Linked DNA regions of Homo sapiens: region 2 is linked to region 1. Evidence: fine-mapped expression QTL. A gene starts in region 1. The other region holds a variant in brackets. All regions are shown on one strand. Distances are from middle to middle. Region 1 holds the start of TBC1D17 (TBC1 domain family member 17). Region 2 holds the start of IL4I1 (interleukin 4 induced 1).

Region 1 (10,180 bases):
CCCAACCCCCACCGGGACTCCAGTTCCTTGGCTAGACCGGGAGCCCCTTGAGAAAAAAGCCCGAGCCTGCTCTGTGTCCTTGTGCCCACCACTCCCAGCACAGAGCTGGCCCCAGGACCAGTAAGGCTCAGAGCAGGGAAGGGACTGGCTTTAGATCACACAGCAAGCCCCAGGCAAGCCTGTCTGGCTCTGGGGTCCTGAGACTGCACTTCTGTAGAAGTACTCTGGGCTAAGCAGGCCCCCACCCCGACAAAGCCTCCTGCGGGCACCTCAAGCGCTGGGCCGCACCCGCCCCTGCCCCCACCCTCTCACCTCCATTATCACTAATGCCCAGCTGCTCCCCGGAGGTCTCTGTCTCTGTGGGCTCATCCTCGTCCTCCTCGTTGTCCTCTCTGGCCAGGGTAGGCCGGGGTGGGCTGGGTGTGGGACTGGGTGGCTGTGGTGCTGGTGGGGGCGCAGGAGGCCGAGCAGCAGTGGCAGCCCTGTGGGCCAGTGCGATGTCGTGGAGGCAACGGCGCGCTGCCTCCGCCAGGGCTCCTCGACCATGGGCAGCATAGGCACAGGGGCCCGGGCGGGGTGGTGGCGGCGGGGCCGCGGTCAGCAGCACCAGCTCCGTGCCAGTCCGGGCCCGGAAGCGCTCAGCGGCCCCCACCACGGCCTCCCACAGCTCCTCGGGGCGCCCCGACGCCATCCGCGCCCTGCGGGCCAGAGCAGGACAGAGGGGGCTGAGGCTTGGCGGCCTACATCATCGCCACCCACTCAGAGTGCCCGCCCGTCCCCTGGATGGCACTCACCACCCTCCACCCACCTTGTCCCAGCGGTGCTGTGTGTCCTCCCCAAACCTGCTACTCCCCAGGATTCTCACCATCCAGTCCTCGCAGGCCCAGACCCTGGCGACGTCCTCTGCCCCAACCCATTCCTCCTGCCCCAAGTCACTGTACTCCTTCCCCTTTGGCCCTGCCCTGGCCTCTGTGGGAGCCGCCAGCCACATGTGAACAGGGAGTACTGGAAAGGCAGGGAGTCCTAGCAGAGAGTCCTAGCAGAGAGGCCTCTAACAATAAAACCTGCACTGGGTTCTGAAGACTGAGTACAATAAAGCCGAACGAGCCGGGCGTGGTGGCTCAGGCCTGCAACCCCAGCACTTTGGGAGGCCGAGGCAGGCGGATCACCGAGCCCAAGAGTTCGAAGCCAGCCTGGGCAAAAAAAAAAAAAAAAAGGAATTTCATCTGCTTTTTTTACTCTTTTAACATGGTGTCTAGAAAATTTAGAATTCCACGTGGGGCTTGTGTTGAATTTGATGGATGATGCCACCCTGCTCCGTCGCCCAGCCATCCCGTCAAGAGTGTCCTGCACAAGGCCCAGGGGGTTCCTTCAGCACCCGGAGCTGATGCTACTCCTCGCCATAGTCCTCAGGGCAGGCCCTGGAGGCTCTAGGTGTTCTGGCCATCCCCAGCTCCTGGGCCATCCTGCCTCCACGGCCTTCCAGAGCCTCTGAGGCCCGAGGCCTTCAGAAAACGTGGTCCCTGACCTTGATGACTTGTGCTCCATTCCCCACCAACCTTTCACTCATCCTAGGGTGGAAGAAACTTTCCCTCGCCCATAGATCCAGCCAGTCTGCTCCATAGGGGGTCCCACACTGTCTGAGTGGCCACCTTCCCAGCACACTTCCTTCCAGAGGGAACTGGCTGGTTCTATGACTGAGGCCTCAGAGAGTCGGGGCTGAAATGGTGCTGGCGCTGCTCTCTGTGCTGGGAAATCCACACGGCTTTTCCTACAAGACTGTTCTGGCAGGTCCTCTGTTGTCCCTGATCCCCCAGGGTGCATCAGATGACTTCAGGAGCCCATCCGATGCCCTGGGCTTCCTCCATGAGCATTCATGTCACCTGAGCTTGTGACAGCTGTAACCTGGCTGCCTCCTGCATCAGACTGTGAATTCCCCCAAGGTCAGGGATTTGTGTTTGCAGGACAGGTCGGCCCTAAGCAGACAATGCAGGGTGCGTCTCCTTACTGGGTGAGAAGAGCGAGGGCAGGGGGGCTGGGTCCTTGCCCTGACTCTGTCTCAAACCTGCTGTGTGACCTTAGATGGCTCACTGGCCCTCTCTGTGCCTCATTTTCTTCCCCATTAACCAGCGTGGTTGAGCCAGAGCTGCTGGGCTGCGGAAGACGCTCTTCCGGGAGGCAGTAAGCACACCGCCACTGCACGGATTCAGGCACAGCTGTGGTCCAGCCCACCAGGGTGAAGGGAGCAGGGAGTCTGGAGTCTGAATGAAATTTGCAGGCCTTTTATGACTCACGATCATTGATGTTGGTGTTTGCTGAGCACCTATTCAGTGCTGGGATTCCACACCTGGCATCTCACCTATCTGACTCACTCAGGGAGTTCAAAGCCCCAAGGGAAGGAAGAGGTTTATCCACCACCTCCCAGAAGCCACGCAAGGACCCAAGATGGGATCAACCTTCTCATCCCACCCTTTCACCTACACTATGAGACAGGAGCTTTAGTTACAGTTCACCCCATTTTACAGTTGCAAACTCAGGCCCAGGGGCAGTCAGCATCTTGAAGGGCCACAACTGGAAGAGGCAGGGCTGGGACCTGGACTCAGAAAGTCTAGATCCGGGGCCTGTTCTAAATCCTGACCGCCATCCTGCCTGCCTTTAGGAGGGCAGATATTCTAATCCAGATGGAAAAGTGAGGCTCAGAGAGCTTAGGACACTGGCAAAAAAGCACACAGCTACACAGGGCACAAGTGGGGCTGAAACTGTGAGGCTCAGAGAGCTTAGGACACTGGCAAAAAAGCACACAGCTACACAGGGCACAAGTGGGGCTGAAACTGCTGACTGCCCAGCCCCAAAACCCCACTGAACTGGGGGGTACCCGGTGTCTCAAACACACCCATGTCCTTCCCAGCTGATGAGGGAGGAAACTGAGGCTCTAAGCAAGAAATGGCTGGTCCAAAGTCAACTGCCTCGCCGTGCTAGGCCTGGGGCTCTCACTTCCACGGGCCTCCAGCCCCTAATGACATGCGGAGAAGAGGGGGAGAGGAGGTCCCGGAAGAGAACGTCAGGATGAACTCTCCGTGTACTCAATCTTGGAGTAGCCACGGGATTAAAGAGTGAAATAGGGTGAGTGAGTTGTGAGGGCTCCCCCAACTCAGGAGACATGAGCAAAAAGGACAGGGCGACTTCCACAGACCTCTTTGCCAAGGTCCAGGGGCACCCTGTAATGCTACCCAACAGGAGAGTAGCCAAGACCTGGGGGTCCTCCTTACCCTTCAGCTTCTAGAGGAGGTCCTGTTTCCTCCAAGGAGCTGAGAGATGGAGGAAGAACCCGCCCCGATAGACGAGTTTCGTGTAAGATCAGGGAGAGATTAGAGGAAAGTGAGACGTGTTCCCCACAGGAGGGGGAGCACGATGTGGCTGTCCTCTTTGGATGCAGGGAGGAGGGAAAAGAGCTAAGGAGGAGAGGGGTGGAACCACCCCTCCTGTCGAAATTTTAGTACCCCACACCCCAAGATGTGAGGAACCTGAGCATGAACGCGGTAGCCATGGGGTGAGCGCCTGGGGCCACGCTCAGCTGCCCCGAGACCTCCCAACCTCGCCCGGGGTCCAGGGAGGACCCACTGGTCTAGGAAGAAAACAGGAAATCCCGCCCAGACGGAGGCCAGGACCGGAAGTCCCGCCTTTGGACGGGTGAGGGGCGCCCCGAGGCCCCCCAAACCATCCCCCGACCCCGTGGACGTGGTCCACGGCCCAGGTAGAGATCCCAGGCGCTCTGGAACCGCAAGGTGAGACTGTCTACGATTTGCCTCAGGTCTGACAGGACGATTCCCACGGGCGACCCCCTTCCAGCGCTCAGCAAAGGATCGCTGGCAGACCTCTGCCCTCTGATCTGTGCAGGCCATACCCCTCCCGTGAGCCGCTCGCCCTCCCAGCGCCCCGCTGCCTCAGGACGGCCAAATCCTCCCCACACCGCGGTTAACAACGCCGCCTCCACTCACGTGCCCGTAGCCAGCATGGCCGGCCCGGCGCCGTCACCGCCCTCAAAAGACATGGCGGCGCCTTGCGTCACGTCCGCGCAGTTGCCCCGCCTCCTCTCCGCACACTCCGCCTCCCTTATCGGGGCCGCCCGAGATCAAGATGGCGGCCACAGGGGCTTCATCCGAACCAGTTGACAAGGGTGACGACAGCTTGCCCCTAAGAAAAATGGCCCCGCCTAGAGCATTTCCATTTGCCCCCAACAATAATGGCCGTCCTCATATGCTCAATCATGACCACAGTAAACGAAGGCAAGCGACCTGACGTCCCTGACCCACAATAAACTTCTTCGACAAAAGTAGAGGAAATCGGTGCTCGTTAACAACATGGCAGCCAACCGGGCTTAATCAGCCCATAGTGTATATTGGCTCTCCCTCCCTCCAACCTGCTCCCATTCGGCACGAAGGCTGGCAAAGATCCAACACGGCAGCATTTCTTGCTTCGGTTTGCCAGGCTTCAAAATGGCGGCTCAGCCCGCTTTCTCGCGACGGTGACTCAGAAATTCGTCCGGGGCCGCTTCGTTTCTGGGGGCACTGACGGCTTCATCCCGTTATCCTGAGTCCCTCAGTGCCTCTTGTGGTGTACAGCTCCTCTCACCTCCTCTTCTCTTATCCGTTCGGCTCTTCCAGCTGTCGCGCCCCGCAGAGAGATGGGACAGCCCCGTATTAACATGGCCTTAGCTGACCGGCTTAGGCCATGCCCTCGAGCAAAATGGTACCTCCTTGGCTTCAATTCCAGTATACAATATGGAGAAGGAAGTGGGCGTTTCAAGGCGTGCTTGCCCCAGGTGGTGCAGCTCTCAGACCCTCCCACTTGTTTACTTCGTGGCGAGAGGGCGAACACTGCGCCTGCGCACTCTCCGTAGCCGGATCCACCTTCAGCGTCTGCGCCACGTGACTCCGATCCACCCTCGAGGTTCCAGTGGAATAACCCCCTTCTGAAAAATGGTTTCACCCGCTCCTTCTCTAGAACGGGTCGGGCCGCTACCACTGTCCGGCCCGGAGGGGAACTGTTTTCTCCGGAAGTGACAACACGCTGACTAGGAAAAGGAGGAGGCGGGGCAGTGGGGCCTTCGGCGGCGACTATGGAAGGAGCCGGCTACAGGGTAAGCACTGAGGACGCATTCCCTCGCTTCAGTGTATGCGAAACGCCCCGTCTAGTGATCAGCTCTTCTCTCAGGCCTTGGCTCTCGAGAATCCGGCACGGCCTTGGCAAACACCGATCTCTTATAAACGCGCCGTCACCCTCCCGTCCACCGCCCCAGGGAAGAACCTCCCATGGCCCCGCCCCCCCGGCTCAGGCGACTCCTTGAGCCCTGCCCCCTGTGGAACGCACGTCAGCATCCGAACGCGGGCTGGACCATTCTCCCCGCCTTGGTCCCGGGGCAATGGCCCTCCCGGCCCCGCCCCCTGAGGGTGGCTCCTCCCTGGGCCCGTCCCTATTGGCTCCCCAGGCTGGTCCCCTCGCTTGGGCCCCAGCCCTCGCTGGTTCCCCCCAACTCAGGTGGTGTTTGAGAAGGGCGGAGTGTACCTGCACACCAGCGCTAAGAAGTATCAGGACCGAGACTCTCTCATCGCTGGTGTCATCCGTGTCGTGGAAAAGGTGCGCTGGGAGGGAGCAGGGCTCGGACCCGCTCCGAGCGGGATGCAGGCGGTCTGGGATGCAGGCGGCAGCTGTAGGAGTTTGGTCTGGCGGTCAGCAGTGGGACCTGAAGAAGGCTGGGTGTGGGAACTGGAATGAGGGGCGGGACTTTGAAAGGCTGAGGGTAGAAACTGGGAAAGTTTGGAAATTTGCAACGGAAAGTTTTGGGAATGTGGTTTGGGGAGCGCCTCTAACCCCGCCTCCCTCCTTACCCTAGGACAATGACGTCCTCCTGCACTGGGCTCCTGTAGAGGAGGCTGGAGATTCCACCCAAATCCTCTTCTCCAAGAAGGTAGGCTCCACCCGCTTTGCCCTTCTCCACTCGCTTTTTTTCTAGGTCCGTGCTGTTGTAAGTCATTTGAGGGACCTGCGTACAATCCCAGACCTACTCGTGGGGCATGTGTGACCCTGTTTAGGCTTGGGTACTCTGCCTCTCCTTTTGCTCCTCTCTGTGAAATGGGCAGAGGATGCCCATTCAAGGAAAAAGAGCAGGGAGCATAAGACGCACGGTCGTGGGGACGGCTGACCCCTCTCTCCCTTTGCTTCTTGGGAGATCCCTGCCAGGGTGCAAGATGTGGATTCGAGTTGCTTGAAGGGAAATGGCATTTCCTCTGGTGCCAGAGGACAGGGCCTGACAGCCTACTCACCCACTTCGTCACTGCTCCCGGCTTTCCCTTCGTTATGTCTCCTGGGACTTCCCATGGCTGGACCCCGTCCTGGGCAATTCTGAGACCCAGAGATAAGTCAGATCCAGACCCACCTAAGCCCTGACCCTTACTCACTTTTTGAGAAACTGATAGATGAGGTCGAAAACGCTAGGAAGTGTTGGAACTTTTTGCACCCAGACAGTCTGATTCCAGATCCCCAACGCTTCCTGGGAGAGCAGACATTTGAGCTGGGACTCCCAGGATATGAAAGGACAAGAAGGTATTTCAGGGACAGCAGAACAACCTTCAAGGCACACGGAGAAGTTGGATGCCTCTGTAGGGGGGTTCTTTAGTGGGGAATGAGACCTCCATTGGAGCTGATGAGTTCCACCCAGGGGCCGGAAGTCAGTCGGCACCCACAGAGCTAGTGACGAGACACTGGAAGGCTGAGCTGACCACCTGCGCTGCCCCAGGGCAGGAGGATGAAGATGAAGATGAAGATGACTCTCCACCTTGCTCCACAGCCAAACACAGCCAAGGCACCAGGAAGTTGCGTTACATCACTTCCGCTTTCCAGGTTGGCCTGCATCTGGTTGGTAGAATTTGTCCTGTGTCCTGGATTCCAGCTGCAAAGAAACCTGGGAAATGTAGTGTGTTTTTTTTGTTGTTGTTATTGTTTTTTTTTTTTTTTTTTGACAGTCTCACTGTCTCAAAAGAGTGCAAAGTGGTATCTTATTGTGGTTTTGGTTTGTATTTACCTGGTGAGTACAACAGTGTCCATTGAGCACTCCGCAGCCTGACTGCAGAGCCACCTGCTGTGTAGCATGGACCTCCCCATGCAGTGGGAGACATGGGGTCAAGTCCTGGCTCGCTCTCTGGCTGCATTGGGTGACCCTGAGCAAGTGCTGTACTTTCTTTTTTCTTTTTTTTTTTTTTTTTTTAATGAGACAGAATTTGCTCTTGTTGCCCAGGCTGGAGTGCAATGGCGCCATCTCAGCTCACTGCAACCTCCGCCTCCCAGGTTCAAGCGATTTTCCTTTCTCACCCTCCCGAGTAGCTGGGATTACAGGCATGCGCCACCATGCCTGGCTAATTTTTTTGTATTTTTTTAGTAGAAACGAGGTTTCTCCATATTGGTCAGGCTGGTCTCGAACTCCCGACCTCAGGTGATCCGCCCGCCTCAGCCTCCCAAAGTGCTGGGATTACAGGCGTGAGCCACCGCACCCGGCCTGCTGTACCTTCTTTGTGCCTCAGTTTCCCTCTTTATTCAATGGGGCTATCTTCCAGGGTAGCCTCGAGGCTAAGATCTGAATCCATGGCCCCTTACTGTCTGCTCCTTTCCTCTCCTAAGGACTCCAGTGGGGGTGACTCATGTGCTTCTGAGGAGGAACCAACCTTTGACCCCGGCTATGAACCTGACTGGGCTGTCATCAGCACTGTGCGGCCACAGCTCTGCCACTCAGAGCCCACGAGAGGTAGGCTGAGGTGGCGGCCCTTGAGAAGCACGTGTGGGCCAGGTAGGACACATCTTGCCCTCAGTGGTCACGGTCCCAAGGGCTTTGCTGCCCACAATCAAGAAGGCCACCAGTCACCACCTTCCAGTCCCAGGAGCATGGAAGTGAATGGGAAGACAGGACTGTCCCAGCCCAGGTCAACATGGCCAGTGTCTCTGAGACTGCAGCCTTGCTCATCCTACTGGGCTCCCGGATTGGCTGTGGGTGCTCCCACACCAGGCCTGCCCCTGAGGTTCGAGGCTGGTGGGGTGACAGATGCAGCCAGTTAGGGTGATTTGCACCATCCTGGGGTCACACAGGGTGCAGGGGACATCCAGAGAAGGCACGTGACCCCTCTGGGGAATGGAGATTCCTTCCAGGAAGAGGTGATGCTGGAGCTTGGCACTGAGGGACTCTTGGGAGTTTTCTCTTCTGGCAGAGAGAGCAGCCCGTGCAAGCCAGAGGCAGGCGGCCCCCGTGTGTTTAGGGAGCCGCTGGCCTTTCATTGTAGCTCAAGTGTGGGATTTTGAGTGAAGAAAGGTTGGAGGTAAGATAGGCAGGGGCGAAGGACAGACCCGAGGGGCCTCGAGTGCCAGGTTGAGGAATAGGGCCCTTACCCTGCAGGTCGAGGGGTGCCTAGGAAGGTTCTGGAAAGGTACATGTCCACTGGGCCCCCTTCCCATCTTACTCATTTGTGCTTCCAAGGAATGTGAGGCCAGGGGCAGAGGGGTGGCTTGTGGCGGGGCCCTCAGGAGATGCCTGTGCCGAAGGAACATCCTGGGTTGTGGTTGATAAGGCTGACTCTGGCTTCCCACGCGCTTCCCCCAACACAGTGCCGTCTCCCTAGGTGCAGAGCCCAGCTGCCCCCAGGGCTCCTGGGCCTTCTCAGTGAGTCTGGGGGAGCTAAAGTCCATCCGCCGCTCCAAGCCAGGCCTCAGCTGGGCCTACCTGGTTCTGGTGACCCAGGCTGGAGGTTCCCTGCCCGCACTGCACTTCCACCGCGGGGGCACCCGCGCCCTGCTCCGCGTCCTCAGCCGCTACCTGCTGTTGGCCAGGTGAGCTCTCTCCCAGTGCTGGGCCTTAAACCGGGCCCAGTCCCACCATGGCTGCAGCGTGACCCCTCGGGGCTGTGAAAGAAACACAACTCACACTGATTTAAAGGCAGGCAAAGAGTTGACCAGCACATATAACTAAAAAGTCAAAAAGGAGTATTGATTTCAGGCAGGACCCAGGTCCCAAAATGTTAGAAACAGTTATCCTTTTTCCCTCTGAGTTCGTTATTCTCTGGGGCCCCAGTATCCGTGGCTTAACAACCCGGCTGGATAGAAGGCACCTCTTTCCCCACGTTCCAACAAGATCCCAGAGCTGCTTCTCATTGGCTCGTCCCTGAGTCAGTCACACTGGACCGGAAGGTGAAAGGCCCTCATTGGCCAGCCCCGAGTCATGTGCCCACCCCTGGGATCCAGCTGTGGGCCTCCTTTAACAGCATTCCCTGAAATGAGGGGTTGCCCAGGGGTGGTTGGGACGCTGCAGCTGGAACCGATGTCGGCCGAGCACAGACAGCCTGGGACACTGGGCCCCTACCTGTGCATCACCTGTGCGTCACCTCCCGCCTCCCAGCTCCCCGCAGGACTCCCGCCTCTACCTTGTCTTCCCCCACGACTCCTCTGCTCTCTCCAACTCCTTCCACCACCTGCAGCTCTTTGACCAGGACAGCTCCAATGTGGTGTCAGTGAGTGTCCCCAGCAGGAGGCCTGGCGGGTGTGGGCAGGGAGGGACGAGAAGGGGCGGGCCGTGACCTCCCTTTGGCCTCGTCCCCAGCGCTTCCTCCAGGATCCCTACTCCACCACCTTCAGCAGCTTCTCCCGAGTGACCAACTTCTTCCGGGGTGCCCTGCAGCCACAGCCTGAGGGAGCCGCCTCCGACCTTCCCCCGCCACCCGACGATGAGCCCGAGCCTGGATTCGAGGTCATTTCCTGTGTGAGTAGTGAGTGGACCCTCCCTGTTATTTCTGGCCGTGTCTCCCTGGGCGCATGATTTCATTTCCCTGGGCCTCAGTTTCCTCTTTGGTAAAACGGGGATGGTAATGGGACACCCTCAGGGGGTGCATGAGGAAAGCGCTCATGGCTCTGCCAGACACTGTGAGCACCTGCTCACCCTTATTGGGGGACCCCTCCTAACTGGGGGATGACTTGGCTGCTGAGCCCCGGAAGAGGCTGCTGCCTGCCCCTGAATGTTAGTCATCCGTCAAGCTAATAAGCTCTCTGAGCTTGTGGACTGAGGCTGGGTTGGGTCCCCCCACCACCCCGCCGAGCCCCAGGCTCATTTGCTCTTTGCCTGCAGGTGGAGCTGGGGCCTCGGCCA
Region 2 (9,089 bases), 19 kb after region 1:
CAGTGCCCAGACCACCTGCCCTCAGGGCTCTCCCACCTACACATCTGGCACCTATTGTTTCCCTGCCTGTCTTTGCGTGGCACATGAGTGCGTGTTCTTCAGCACTTTGTTCGAATCTCACCCCCTCCCAGAAGCCTTGCTGCCCCCATCTAATTTCAGCCTTCTTCTTGGTCCACCTGGCTTCCCCCTTCTGGCCAGGACCTCAGAGGGAAGGCAGTGCCCCTTCACTCACTCATGCATCTCGCATCTCTCAGACTCCCAAACCAGTCAGTGTCAAGGCATAGAAATGACCTGGACATGGCCCCCATCCTGGTCTAGAAGGGGAGATGGGCAAGTGGGCTCTGACCTGGGTGGGGAGGGGATGTTGGGTGTGGCCAGTTCCTCCCTAAAGGTATCAGGGAAGGCTTCCTGGAGGAGGGGACATTGGAGCTAGTTCTTGAGGGCTGAGCAGGAGTTCCTGTGTGGGGAAGGGAAAGGCATTCTGGAAAGGGAGGGTGATACACAGGTATAGTGGGTGTGAGGAACACAGAGCTGGGGGCATGTGGACCACCATGAGGACAAAAATTTCTTAGAGGAGAAAAGAGCATGAGGCTGGAGGGGTGCAGAAGGGAAGGCCAGTCAGGGCTCAAAGCTGAGCCTGAAAAGATCAGACTTTGTCCTGGAGGCAGCGGGGAGCCACTGGGGGCTGTGAGCAGCATCACTCTGGGTGTGTGGGAAGACGTTTCTGGTACCAGGCTGGGGAGACTAGAGCCTGGGCAGCTTGAGAGGAGGCTGGGGGAGGGTCCAGGGCAGAGGAGGAGGCCTGAGCTGGGGCAGGCAGAGGGGAGCAGGGCACAAGCGTCAGGCGGCAGGGGTGGGCACTGATGGTGGGGGAGGTGGGCGAGGAGGAGGTCAGGAGGAGGATGGCTCCTAGGGGTCTGCCCGTGACTGCGGGATGGTGGGGCCATCGTGAGATGGGGGCACCGGGAGGAGGAACAGGTTTAGGGGAAGCTTCTGAGCCCAGTGTCCTGGGGAGGGACACAGATCAGGGTCTCGGGAGGCAGATGTCTCCATCAGCCCATGGATCTATGTTTAAGCCAGAGGTGGAGACTGGGGAGGTTATCCAGGACAGTGTGTGGGTGAAAGGGGAAGAGGCCAAAAGCTGATGCAGCTTTGGGGTCAGCAGTGTTTACGGGGAAGCTAAAGAAGGGAGTTGGGGCCGGGGGCAGTGGCTCACGCCTGTAATCCCAGCACTTTGGGAGGCTGAGGCAGGTGGATCACGAGGTCAGGAGTTCAAGATCAGCCTGGCCAAGATGGTGAAACCCCGTCTCTATTAAAAATACAAAAATTAGCTGGGCGTGGTGGCGGGCGCCTGTAATCCCAGCTACTCGGGAGGCTGAGGCAGAGAATTGCTTGAACCTGGGAGGCGGAGGTTGCAGTGAGCTGAAATGGCGCCATTGCACTCCAGCCTGGGTGACAGAGTAAGACTCCATCTCAAAAAAAAAAAAAAAAAAAAAAAAAAGAAGGGAGTTGAGAGATGACCCATATGTGTAGAAGCCCCTGGGCTGGCCCATTCTCATTCTCGGATTTCAGTGAGTAGGTCAGTGGTTAGACCTCATGGCACACATCCCCTTGGTAGAATTTCCATCTCCACCAACAGGCGCCCCACCCCATGGAGGGGACTGAAGGGATGCCAGAGAGAAGAAAAGCCGGGCCGGGGCGAGCTTAGGAGGAGGACAGAGAAGTCAGGGCGGGAGGAGGGTGCAGGCGGTACCCACCTGGTTGAGAGCCATCTGGTAGATGTCTTCGGGCGAGTGGCCCTTTTCCTGGGGACGCAAGGCGTAGCCCAGCTTCTCGGGCACCTTCTCCACCACATAGTTGCGCAGCTTCACTTCGTGCACCTCCGTCCACGTGTTCTTGTCGTACTGGGTGAACTTGGTCAGGTTGAGCCCCAGGCCCTGGCAGAGCTTGTGGAGGATCCTGATCAGGGGAGTGGGTGAGTGAGGGCCGGGCTCCAGTGGGGGTGGCCTGGTCCCTAGTGGGACTTGGAGAAGAGGGGTGGGAGGGGAGAGTAGCTGGGGACCAGCATGAGGCTGGGGGTGGGGCTAGATTTGGGGTAATCAATGCTGGGGGATGGGAATGAAATGGGGACAAGGCTGGAGGCCTCAGGGCAGTACCAGGATTAGGATTGGGTTAAGAGTGGGATAGAGCCCAGATTAGAATTGGGAAGGGGGACAGAGTTTGGGTTGGACGGGGGTTTGAGATGAAGAAGGGGCCTGGGGCTGGGGTGCCTGAGGGTGTGGGGATGGTGGAGCTGCAGGCCTGGAGGGGCCAGCACAGGAGCTGGCTTTTGCACCAGGCAGGGCCAGCTGGAGGTCTGGTTGGACCAGGTGGCCCGAGTGTTGCCAGAGGCCCAGGGCTGGCGCTGGAGGCAAGACTGAGGTGAGGATTAGGCGAAGGATGGGGTTGGAGGCTGGGTTTGGGAGTCAGAGTGGAAGTTCGGGCCCACTCTGGTGTGGGCATGGAGCTGGGGGGCTAGTTGAGTCTAGGCACACAGGTGGGTGGGTTGCTAGGTCACCTGTGAGAGCTGGGCATGCGCATGGCTCCCAGCTCCCCAATCCAGCCCGTGTTCTGGTCCCGGTAGGTGAAGATGCGGCCCCCGATCCTGTTATCTGCCTCCAGGATGGTGACCTGAGGGAGTCCGTGGGGCGAGGAGGGCCCTTCAGCTCCACCCACTGACCATCCCCTGCCCTCTACCACCCCGTGCCAGCCCCCTGCCTTCTTCCATCCCCACAGTGGCCCAGACCCAGACTAGGAGAGGGTCCCCTTCTGTATGGAGGTGGGGGAACAGAACTGAGTGAGCAGTTCCAGACTGCAGGAGGAAGGCTGCCAGCTAGACTGCAAAGGGACTTCCCAGCTCGGGGAGTTCGGAGATGACCCATATGCGTAGAAGCCCCTGGGCTGGCCCATTCTCATTCTCGGATTGCAGTGAGTAGGTCAGTGGTTAGACCTCAGGGCACACATCCCCTTGGTAGAGTTTCCCTCTCCACCAACAGGCGCCCCACCCCAGGACAGAGGAGCTTTGAGCCAGTGAGACTTCCCTCTGGGATGAAAAACGTGGGACAGGAAAGTCTGGGGCCTCTCAGTGGAGACATGTGACAGCAGGGGGCTTGGGCCTCACCCCCAGACTACAGGGAAAGATAGCCTCTCCCCCCACATCCCCACCTCCACCCCCTCAAGGAGGAACGCGGCCGTGTCCCTGTGCCCAGGGACTCCAGCCTGCAGCAGGAGGGACTCCAGGTAGACTGCAAGCAGTGCTTCCCACCTTGTGTCCAGCATCGCTGAGCACCTTGGCGGCCACCAGCCCGGCCACACCAGCGCCAACCACAATCACCCTCTGGGGCTTCAGGGTCCGATTGAGCCCCCAGGTCACCACCTTGAGCAGCTGCTCATAGTCAGGATCCTGCATGCATTTCTCGAAGGGGTCTTGGCTGCGTTCAGCCTTCCAGTCCTGGGAGGCCACCAGGCTGAGGAGGATGGGGACGAGGACGAGGAGGTGCAGGGCTGGGAGGAGGAGGACAGGGTCAACGGGGTTGTGGCAGGTCGGGGGAGAGGGGTTCTACTCACTTGTTCCAGAGCCCCTCCCCTGCTTACTCACCCAATGGGGCCATGACTCTCGGTGGGAGATGGTGTCTGGGGTGGAGGAGAAGGGAGGGCTGTTGTGACTGAGGCCTGTGACCACTGTAGCCTGACTCTGTCTCCCATGGGCTGCCCAGCTGCTAGAGCCGGCCCTCCCCCAGTCACTGTCCTGCTCTCTGGACCTGTGTCCCCTAACCCCATTCCTTCAGAGTCCCCTGGACCGTCCCTGCCTCCCTCCTCACCGGTCTCCACCTCTGCCACAGCTCTCTCGGGTTCCTGTCTCTTTCTCTTCTTTTCCCTCTTTCTTTCCTTTCTTTCTTTTTTTTTTAACAGTCTTTCTCTGCCATCCAGGCTGGAGTGCAGTGGTAAGATCTTGGCTCACTGCAACCTCCGCCTCCCAGGTTCAAGAATCCTCCCACTTCAGCCTCCCAAGTAACTGGGATTACAGACACCCATAACCAAACCTGGCTAATTTTTGTATTTTTAGTAGAGACGGGGTTTCGCCATGTTGGCCAGGCTGGTCTCGAACTCCTGACCTTAGGTGATCCACCCACCTCGGCCTCCCAAAGTGCTGGGATTCCAGGCATGAGCCCCCGCGCCCGGCCTCTTTTCCCTCTTCCTCATCTCCCCAGCTCCTGACTGCTTCTCAGTCCCTATTTCTGTGGGTCCTGTCTCTCTGTCCCCCCACCACTGGCCGTGTCACTACCTCCAGCTCTTGGTGACAGCAGGACAGCGCGGTCCTCTCCACTGCCCTCCACTGTCTCTGCTGTGGCCCTTTCTCTCCCCTTAAACTGGCAGAGCCCCGCCCACCCCTCCTTTTGGGAAACTGGCCGAGGGAAATGAAACTGGTTTCCTGGAGCTGCTCTGGTCCAATGCTCAGAGTCTAGTTGAGGTTGGAGAAAGGGGGTTGGAGGAAGTTAATCAGTCTATTCACTTCCTTTTGCCCCAGATAGTTCTGGGGTGGTTTGGAGGCCAGAAATAGATGCTCAGGTAACCGTGCCAACAACGGGGAATCCCCTTCGGTTTGCCCCCGTCCCTGATCACCAGGCCACTTGTTTCTATCCTCCCCTGCACTCTCTCTGCCTCCTTGATTCCCACGGGGACAGAGGGGCTACAGGTCCCTGGGCCAGGCCAACTTTCCCCTCCAAGTCCCTCTCCGTCAGGTGTCGCCATGTCCTGCAGGGCCCCCCATGGTTCCACTTCCCTCTCCACTTGCCACCCAGAGCCTCAGTCTCCCCCTCCGTTACATGGGTGTAGCAGTGGGGCTGGCAGCCGTGGTCCCGGGGTCAGGACGTGGGCTCTGAGCCCGCCCTCCCCTCTGTGGCTCTCGTCTACAGCTGTCAAATGACGTCTACAGACGTCACAGTGTTTTAGGATCAAGTGAGTGAATCCAGGTTAAGTTCTGTGGCCGGAACCTGGGGTAGTACTGGAAGCTGCTCCTTTGGAAATGCCAGCTGCTGTGGCCGCAGGGGCACTCAGGGGTTCTATGAGTGACCACCCGGCAGAGGGAAGCGCCCAGGCTTCACCCATCCCTGCTTTAAGAACCACCTCAGTGCTCAGGGCAGGGAGTGGGGCGGCACCTTGGAGTGGGTGGGGGTGGAGAAACAATAGCAGGGACTTTCCTTGGGGTGGGGGAGAGGGAGCCAGGGG[C/G]TCCGTGAGGAGGAAAACCAGAGGGAGGCAGATTCTCTGCAGCAAGGGTTGGGTGGGGGTTGGAGGGCATTAACAAGAAGGAAGATGGGAAACTCCCGCAGTAAATCAAAGAGGGATGCGGTTATGGCCGGGAGGGGCTGGGGGGTGAATGTGAGTAACAAGGCATGTGACGCAGGGGCGGGAGGCCGTGGCAAAGGGAAATGATCAAAGAGCTGGAGAGTTCAGGGACCGAAAGAGCTTGGGTCAGCAAAAATAGTGACGAGGGCCAGGGGTGGCTCACGCCTATAATCCCAGCACTTTGGGAGGTCGAGGCAGGCGGATCACCTGATGTCAGGAGTTCAAGACCAGCCTGGCCAACATGGCAAAACCTCGTCTCTACTAAAAATATAAAAATTAGCCGGGCATGGTGGCATACGCCTGTAGTCCCAACTACTCAGGAGGCTGGGACAGGAGAATTGCTTGAACCCAAGAGGTGGAGGTTGCAGTGAGCTGAGATCGTGCCACTGCACTCTAGCCTGGGTGACAGAGCCAGACTCCATCTCAAAAAATAAAAAATAAAAATAAAAAATAGTAATGAGGGCCGGGTGCGGAGGCTCACTGCTGTAATCCTAGCACTTTGGGAGGCCGAGGTGGGAGGATTGCTTGAGCCCAGGGGCTCGAGACCAGCCTGGCCAAGATGGCGAAACCCTTTCTCTAAAAAAGAAAAAAATAGTGACAAAAATGTTCCCATGGCGATCACCTGCCTTGGAGGCCGCCTGGTGCTCAGGGCTTTGCACCCATCGTAAGCCTCACAATGCCTGCATTTGAGGCCAGGCACAGTGGCTTACGCCTGTAATCCCAGCACTTTGGGAGGCTGAGGTGGGCGGATCACTTGAGGTCAGGAGTTCAAGACCAACCTGGCCAAAATGATGAAACCCTGTCTCTACCAAAAATATAAAAAATTAGCCAGGCGTGGTGGTGCACACCTGTAATCCCAACTACTCGGGACACTGAGGCAGGAGAATCGCTTGAACCCGGGAGGCAGAGGTTGCAGTGAGCCGAGATTGCACCGCTGCACTCCAGCCTGGGGGACAGAGTGAGACTCCGTCTCAAAAACAAACAAACAAACAAACAAAAAACCAACAACAATGCCTGCATTTGATAGTTGAGGAAACTGAGGCTTGGAGATGGCGAGAGGGTGGGACAGGAGGACCCTGGGGCACAGAGAGGGGAAAAGGCTTGGCCTAGGTCTCAGAGTTTCATTCACAGCGACATGTCAAGTATGAACGCGGCGGGATTGGGGCCTTATTCGCCTGTGCCTCGACCTGGGTCCCACAGTGGGGAATGGCAGTGCTGGCATTCCTCACCAGGTCGGGTGGGCCCCAGGTCCCCGGCCCCTGCCCAATAGCTTGTTCAGTCCTACAGCCGCATAACAGTGGAAACAACCATGGAAAGGTGTGGAGGCCCACAGCCAACTGGCTCCCAGGGCATGTCCCAGGAGTTTTTGGGTCCCCAGAGTGGGTGGGGCCCTGCACCAATCCCCTTGTCCTTATCACAGAGGGTTGTTGCACAAAACTCCTCTGGCCCCAGGCATATGTGCAGCTCACCTTGGGGGACTTCTGGGTGGTTGTTGTTGTTGTTTTGAGAGATGGGGTCTTGCTGTGTCACTCAGGCTAGAGCACAGTGGCACAATCTCGGCTCACTGCAGCCTCAACCTCCCGGGCTCAAGCAATCCTCCCACCTCAGCCTCCCTAGTAGCTGGGACTACAGGAGTGCACTACCACACCTGTTTTTTGTTTTTTTTGTTTTTTTTAATTGAGACGGAGTCTCACTCTGTCACCCAGGCTGGAGTGTAGTGGCGCTATCTTGGCTCACTGCAAGCTCCACCTCCTGGGTTCACGCCATTCTCCTGCCTCAGCCTCCAGAGTAGCTGGGACTACAGGCACCTGCCACCACGTCCGGCTAATTTTTGTATTTTTAGTAGAGATGAGATTTCACCGTGTTAGCCAGGATGGTCTCAATCTCCTGACTTTGTGATCTGCCCGCCTCGGCCTCCCAAAGTCCTGGGATTACAGGCGTGAGCCACCTCGCCCGGCCACACCTGGCTAATTTCTGTGCTGTTTGTAGAGATGGGATTTTGTTATGCTGCCCAGGCTGGTCTTGAACTCCTGGGCTTAAGCGATCCTCCAGCCTCAGTCTCTCGAGTAGCTGGGACCACAGGTGCACACCACCATGCACAGCTAAATTTTTGTACTTTTTCATAGCGACGGGGCCTTGCTATGTTGCCCAGCCTGGTCTCAAACTCCTGGGCTCAGGTGATCTACCTGCCTTGGCCTCCCAGAGTGCTGGGATTACAAGCATGAGCCACTATGCCCGGCCCCTTTGAGCTTTTTTGTGCATTTCACATCATCTTCATTCAGCATGTATTACTTTTGTAATTAAAGAAAAAAAAATCCCAATTAATGTTAGTTTGAAGCAATACATCAGACAGGCCAGGTGCCCCCAGTGAAGAGCAGAGGGCGCAAGTCAGCTGGTTCAGGATTGATGCCTTTCCAGAATGCTCTGTCGCCCAGGCTGGAGTACAGTGGTGTGATCTCAGTTCACTGTGGCCTCTGCCTCCTGGGTTCAAGTGATTCTCCTGCCTCAGCCTCCCCAGTAGCTGGGATTACAGGTGCGCGCACCACCACGCTCAGCTAATTTTTATATTTTTAGTAGAGACGGGGTTTCTCCATGTTGGACAGGCTGGTCTTGAAGTCCTGACCTCAGGTGATCCACCCACCTGGGCCTCCCAAAGTGCTGGGATTACAAGTGTGAGCCACCATGCCCAGCCTCCAGAATCATTTCTGATAATACTAAGGAGATTGGTGTTCAGGTTAAATTAGGTTTAGGGATGAGGGTGGAATTAGGGAAAAGCAGTTTGGATAGGTGAGTGGGAGACAGGAGGGAGGGGAGGGGCAGGTGGAGGGAGCGGAGGGGAGGAAAGGCCCAGTCAAGTATCTGTTGACTTCAGCTGGTTTGGGGGTATTCTGGTTTTTTGATGGAGTTTCTGGAAAATAAGGTTAATCCTCCCAGATAATGGTCTTTGGTGGGGCAAATCCTACCTTATTTGGTTGACTTCTAGAACCACAATGATGGTTTCGATGAGGTTTAGGTCATGTCTATACAGCAGCCAGACACCTGGCCCTGGCCCCACTGGGGGCCTCGTGGCCCATCAGGGCAGCTGATGCTGATGAGGGCTGCACAGATGTGCTGGGGACCGGGCCCCTGCCTTACGTATATACGCATTCTCTTCTCTGAGTCTGTCCAAAGACCCTAAGTGGTCAGTATTAAAAGTTTCATTGGCCAGACGCGGTGGCTCACTCCTGTCATCACAGCACTTTGGGAGGCCGAGGTGGGCGGGCAGATCACGAGATCAGGAGTTCGAGACCAGCCTGGCCAACATGGTGAAACCCTGTCTCTACTAAAAATACAAAAAAATTAGCCGGGCGTGGTGGCGGGCATCTGTAATCCCAGCTACTCAGGATCCTGAGGCGGGAGAATCGCTCGAGCCTGGGAGGCAGAGGTTGCGGTGAGCCGAGACCGCGCCATTCCACTCCAGCCTGGGCTACAGAGCGAGACTCTGTCTCAAAAACAAAACAAAACAAAACAAACACAAAACTTTCACCAAGGCTTGGGTGGGCAGGGCCTGCCCAGGGGATGACCTGGGACCTGGGTGGGAGTCAGGGGGTCCAGGCCCAGATTGGGGAAGGGACTCAGGGATCGGAGGACAGAATTAGTGAGTCCCCCAATCTTTGGCCTGACCCCAGGACAGGGTCCCCCTTCCCATGGAACCCTCCTTCCTG

What was found. PIP is the estimated chance that this variant, and not a neighbour inherited with it, causes the effect.
Region 2: its variant is fine-mapped to the expression of TBC1D17 in monocytes after Pam3CSK4 (Quach 2016, PIP 0.95). The same link has a PIP of 0.9 or more in monocytes, monocytes after LPS and monocytes after R848.

Annotation. Positions count from the first base shown.
Region 1 is chr19:49,872,605-49,882,784 of GRCh38, forward strand. TBC1D17 (TBC1 domain family member 17) reads left to right here and starts at 5,098. Exons shown (of 17, transcript NM_024682.3): 1 at 5,098-5,140; 2 at 5,539-5,637; 3 at 5,894-5,968; 4 at 7,675-7,798; 5 at 8,664-8,871; 6 at 9,437-9,548; 7 at 9,638-9,796; 8 at 10,160-10,180. The coding sequence starts at 5,120. AKT1S1 (AKT1 substrate 1) reads right to left here and starts at 4,751. Exons shown (of 5, transcript NM_001098633.4): 1 at 4,633-4,751; 2 at 313-698. The coding sequence starts at 691. LOC124904743 (a long non-coding RNA gene) reads right to left here. Exons shown (of 4, transcript XR_007067293.1): 4 at 9,486-9,570. RefSeq lists enhancers at 3,372-4,331, 3,915-4,554, 4,735-5,074, 5,292-6,251 and a silencer at 5,295-5,584.
Region 2 is chr19:49,892,511-49,901,599 of GRCh38, forward strand. It overlaps IL4I1 (interleukin 4 induced 1), which reads right to left and starts at 4,377. Exons shown (of 8, transcript NM_152899.2): 1 at 4,325-4,377; 2 at 3,638-3,672; 3 at 3,305-3,543; 4 at 2,558-2,670; 5 at 1,758-1,959. The coding sequence starts at 3,650. RefSeq lists enhancers at 2,863-2,912, 5,307-5,486. The variant C/G (reference allele first, on the strand shown) is at 5,269.